Linked DNA regions of Homo sapiens: region 2 is linked to region 1. Evidence: fine-mapped expression QTL. A gene starts in region 1. The other region holds a variant in brackets. All regions are shown on one strand. Distances are between the middles of the regions. Region 1 holds the start of HYAL4 (hyaluronidase 4). Region 2 has its middle 43 kb from the start of WASL-DT.

What was found. PIP is the estimated chance that this variant, and not a neighbour inherited with it, causes the effect.
Region 2: its variant is the best candidate, but not a certain one, in a credible set for the expression of HYAL4 in lymphoblastoid cells (GTEx, PIP 0.50).

The regions. Positions count from the first base shown.
Region 1 is chr7:123,843,571-123,846,489 of GRCh38, reverse strand. HYAL4 (hyaluronidase 4) reads right to left here and starts at 1,321. Exons shown (of 5, transcript NM_012269.3): 1 at 805-1,321.
Region 2 is chr7:123,791,083-123,794,001 of GRCh38, reverse strand. It overlaps a transcript of HYAL4 not described here. Among named protein-coding and RNA genes, the nearest start is that of WASL-DT, 43 kb to the right of the region's middle. The variant A/C (reference allele first, on the strand shown) is at 1,268.

The sequences.
Region 1 (2,919 bases):
GGGAGTGAGACTGGCCTTTTGGGTTGTATGAGAGCTGGGTGAGGCCTGTGACTGCCAGCTTTCCCTCACTCCCCTGACAACCTGCATGACACAGCAGAGGCAACCCTAATCCTCCTGGGAATATAACACCATTGGCCTGGGAACAACACCCCCATCCACCACAGCAGCTGCCACCAAGACCAACCCAAGGAGAGTCTGAACTCACACATGCCTAGCCCTGCCCCCCTGATGGTCCTTCCCTACCCACCCTGGCAGCTGAAGACAAAGGGCATATACTTTTGGGAATTCTAGGGCCCTGCCCACTGCCTGATGCCCCTATGCTACTACAGCTGATGCTCTCTTCAAAGTGCCACCTCCTGGCAGGAGGCCAATACAAAAATAGTGCATTAAGCAACCAAAACTAAGGACCTTCACAGAGTCCATTCCACCCTGCTGCCACCTCCACCAGAGCAGGTGCTGGTATCCATGGCTGAGAGACCTGCAGATGGTTTACATCACAGGACTCTGTGCAGACAACCCTCAGTGCCAGCCTGAAGCCTGGCAGACCAGCTAGGTGGCTAGATACAGAAGAGAGATAACAATCACTACCACTCAGCTCTCTGGAAACCACATCCATAGGAAAAGGGGGAGAATACTACAGCAAGAGAACACCCCGTGGGTCAAAAAATCTGAATAGCAGCCTTGAGCCCTATACCATCCCTCTGACATAGCCTACCCAAGTGAGAAGGAACCAGAAAAACAATTCTGGTAATATGACAAAACAACTTTCTTTAACATCCCCCCCAAAAAATTACACTAGCTCACCAGCAATGGCTCCAAACCAAGAAGAAATTCCTGATTTTCCTAAAAAAGAATTCAGAAGGTCAGTTATTAAGCTAAACAAGGAGGCATCAGAAAAATGTGAAGTCCAATTTAAGGAAATTTAAAAAAAATGACTCAAGAAATGAGAGGCGGAATCTTCAGTGAAATAGATGGCATAAATAGCAAGGCACGGTGGCTCACCCCTGTAACCCAACATTTTGGGAGGCTGAGGCAGGCAGATCACTTGAGGTCAGGAATGCAAAACCATTCTGGCCAATATGGTGAAACCCCATCTCTACTAAAAATACAAAAATTAGCTGGGCATGATGGCATGCTCTTGTAGTCCCAGCTACTCAGGAGGTTAAGTCAGGAGAATCACTTGAACCCAGGAGGCAGTGGTTGCAGTGAGCCGAGATCACACCACTACACTCTAGCCTGGGCAACAGAGTAAGACTTCATCTCAAAAAAAAAAAAAAAAAAAAAAAAGGAAAAGAAATAGATAGCATAAATAAAATAAAGAACTATTGAAACTGGAAGATGGCCAAATAGGAACAGCTCCAGTCTGCAACTCCCAGCATGATCGACGCAGAAGACGGGTGATTTCTGCATTTCCAACTGAGGTACCTGGTTCATCTCACTGGGACTGGTTGGACAGTGGGTGCAGTCCAAGGAGGGCGAGCTGAAGCAGGCGGGGGCATCGCCTCACCCAGGAAGTGTAAGAGATTGGGGGATTTCCCTTTCCTAGCTAAGGTAAGCCGTGACAGACTACCTGGAAAAACAGGACACTCCCACCAAAATAGTGCTTTTCCCAAGGACTTAGCAACCAGTAGACAAGGTGATTCCCGTGCCTGGCTCGGTGGGTCCCACGCCCACAGAGCCTTGCTCACTCCTAGCACAGCAGTCTGAGATTGAACTGTGAGGCAGCAGCCTGGCTGAGGGAGGGGTGTCCGCCATTGCTGAGGCTTGAGTAGGTAAACAAAGCAGCTAGGAAACTCGAACTGGGTGGAGCCCACCACAGCTCAACAAGGCCTACTGCCTCTAGACTCCATCTCTGTGGGCAGGACATAGCTCAAAAAAAGGCAGCAGACAACTTCTGCAGACTTAAACGTCTCTGTCTGACAGCTCTGAAGAGAGCAGTGGTTCTCCCAGCACCGCGTTTGAGCTCTGAGAAAGGACAGATTGCCTCCTCAAGTGAGTCCCTGATGCCCGTGTAGCCTATCTGGGAGACACCTCCCAGTAGAGGTGGACAGACAACTCATATAGGCGGCTGCCCTCTGGGACGAAGCTTCCAGAGAAAGGATCAGGCAGCAATATTTGTTGTTCAGCAATATTTGCTCTTCTGCAATACTTGCGGTTCTGCAGCCTCCGCTGGTGATACCCAGGTAAACAAGGTCTGGAATGGACCTCCAGCAAACTCCAACAGACCTGCAGCTGAGGGACCTGACTGTTAGAAGGAAAACAAAAAGAAAGGAATAGCATCAACATCAACAAAAAGGTCATCTACACCAAAACCCCATCTGTAGGTCACCAACATCAAAGACCAAAGGTAGATATAACCACAAAGATGGGGAGAAACCAGAGCAGAAAAGCTGAAAATTCTAAAAATCAGAATGCCTTTTCTCCTCCAAAGGATCGCAGCTCCTCACCAGCAATGGAACAAAGCTGGATGGAGAATAACTTTGATGAGTTGACAGAAGTAGGTTTCAGAAGGTCAGTAATAACAAACTTCTCTGAGCTAAAGAAGGGTGTTTGAATCCATTGCAAGGAAGCTAAAAACCTTGAAAAAAGATTAGATGAATGGCTAACTAGAATAAACAGTGTGGAGAAGACCTTAAATGACCTGATGGAGCTGAAAACCATGGCACAAGAACTTCATGACGGATGCACAAGATTCAATAGCCAATTCGATCAAGCGGAAGAAAGGGTATCAGTGATTGAAGATCAAATTAGTGAAATAAAGCAAGGAGACAAGGTTACAGAAAAAGAATAAAAAGAAATGAAAAAGCCTCCAAGAAATATGGGACTATGTGAAAAGACCAAATGTATGTTTGATTGGTATACCTGAAAGTGATGGGGAGAATGGAACCAAGTTGGAAAACAGTCTTCGGGATATTATCC
Region 2 (2,919 bases), 52 kb after region 1:
AGGAAATTCCAAACTTTCTCACATCTTCCTGCCTTCTGTGCCCTCCAAGTCTCTAGGAAGTTCCAAACTTTTCCAAATTTTCCTGTCTTCTTCTGAGCCCTCCAAATGGTTCCAACCTCTGCCTGTTACCCAGTTCCAAAGTCGCTTCCACATTTTGGGGTATCTTTACAGCAGCACCCCACTCTCTGTGGTGCTAATTTACTGTATTAGTCCATTCTCATGTTGCTAATAAAGTCATACCTGAGACTGGATAATTTATAAAGAAAAGAGATTTAATTGATTCACAGTTCAGCATGGCTGGGGAAGCTTCAGGAAACTTACAATCATGGGGGAAGGGGAAGCAAACACATCCTTCTTTACAGGGTAGCAACAAGAAGTGCCTAGCAAAAGTGGGAAAGTCGCTTATAAAGCTATCAGATCTCGTGAGAACTCACTATCATGAAAAGAGTATGAGGCTAACGGCCCCCATGATTAAATTATTTTCCACCAGGTCCCTCCCATGATATCTAGGGATTATGGAAACAACAATTCAAGATAAGATTTGGGTGGGGACACAGCAAAACCATATCAGATAGTAATCTCCCAAGTCCTGAGATGTTCTATATAATAACATGACCCAGACAACTTTGGGTCTCAGATTTTATCACTGTAAAACAGTTAGGCATAAGGGTAAAATATTTAGAGACAACTGTCTAGCAAATACTTCAAATTGTTCTTAAGCAAAGAAGGCAAAATAAGTAGCTTATTGTGTGGCAAGCACTAGTTGCTTTAAGGAATATTTTGGACCAGATCAAGTTTGGAGCATGGCATGAGACCCTCTGTACATCCTGGATAGCACAGCTTCCTGTTATACAAAGTTCCAAAGCTTCTTGACCATCACAGAATGTTTTGAAACACCACAACTGATGCTCAGACACATACCTTGTTTTGCATGGTCTTAGGATAGCTGTAGAAGAGAGCTCAATCCTGGTCCACCAACTGTGTTAAGGCATCCACACACCAGTCTAGGGGACTGGGATCCCCTGAAAAAGGCTGGCCCGAAGGGACCTCAGAGCCTATGAGAGGAGGTCTGGAAGAGCAGGCTGAACTGGTAGCCTGCCTGAATGTCAGAGGAGCAGTGGACCATGGTAGGAGGGAGCTTGACCTTACCTGATATTACTCCCTTCCCCCTGAGCATCAATGTGTTATGACAGTAGAAGGCTAGGATGTCAGTTACATCTGTTTCTAGGGCCCTAACTCTTCTGTGAAAAACGTCTCTGATCATGAG[A/C]CTCTAAGGGAGTTTTCCTACCAGTCAGAGAGGGAGAAAAGCAAGAGATCAGCAGTCTGGGGATGAGACAGGGCATGAGAATAAAGGAAATTGTGGGCAAACCTCACCCATGGGACCTCCCAGACAGAATAAATTAACAGGAGGGGCTTCTACTAAAAGACCCAGTCAAGCAGGTGTGGGCTCCAAGCCTTGAGATTTGGACTATTATTATATATGTGACTATTTGTATGCCCTGGCAGATAAAGCTACAGCTATCTGTGTTCAGTGCATTTAACCTTCACAATTAATTTTACAGAAGAAAAACTGAACCTCAGCAAGGTAATTTACCTAAGTGCAAAGAGATAAGAGGCAAAGCCAGGAATCAGAACCAGAGCTGTCTGACTCCAAAAGCCAGGCTCTTACTTCCACAACTTAAGGCATCTCAAGAGGTGGAAGATTCAGTGGAGCATAACCAATAAATACGTACCGTGTTCTAAATAATGATAAAAAGCAAACTAATGTGAGCAGTTTCTATGTGCTATGTGATCTGCCTGTGTAACAGTGTGACTTCCTGAAGAATTTATTGATACCTTGATTTTTTTCCCCCTATTTTCTTCTCATCAGTGAAACAATGAGGTCAGGGCTCTATGCCCTTGAGGTCTAGAGTTCCCTTGTCCTCAGAGTGAGAGTTCATAGGGCTCATTTCAAAGCTCTCAGCCAATGAAGAAATTAAACTGGACTGTCCCAAAGAAGATGAAAATAGAGGCTTTGGGAGATTGGCCCAACCTTGCAGTTGGTTTCACAGATGCAAACATTGGGAGAATTGTGAATTTCTTCACGTGCTTGGACTTGGCATTCTGGAGGTTACAAGTCCTTGTATGGGAACAGGTGTTTGGAACAGATGAGAATTGGCCATTAAATGCTATGTCTTGAGCATCTTTTTAAGACATTTGTGACTAAGCAGTCAGCAGAGAGGAATTTTGAGGAAGTTTTGGGCCAGCTCACCCAAGGAGGCCGTCTCCAGTGCATGGCAAAGAAACCATGCTCAACTACTGTTGAACATTTGGAAGACTGAGCTGCCATCCATGTCTGTGAAGGTTGTATACAAAATGGCCCTGTGCACAGCACCCAAGTGGAGCCAAGGGGTAAATGGCTATCCCTGTGGACCAAGAACCAGGCCCTTCCCCTTTTCCTGGGAATATGTAAGCCCCAGGGTTTTTGTAAATTCCAGTGAGGATAACCCCAATTAATCACTGATATTGAGCTTATCATTGACCCTGATAAGTTATGATTTGGAGATGGCTTTATTTAGAAAATAAAGAAGCATACCATCTCTTGTATCTTGAGTGTAAAGAAGCTATTCATAACTTTACACAGACAATAAATCATTTTCTATTTACATGATGAATTACTGAAGTTCTATTATCATTCTCTTTTTACAGATAAAGAAATTAGAACTTAAAGTTGAACAACATGCCCATGTTGACATGACTCATAAGCCCTTTTAAATATAAGGAATTCAGGCCTTTCGGACTTCCCAGCTTTATGAAAAACACTGTGGCACCATTCTACATGCTGTGAAAACTAATTCAAGGAGCCTGTCACCACAAGCTGCATAAACAAATCGTTACCAGCATAAACAGAATATATAGCAGAATTTATTCTTCGAAAAA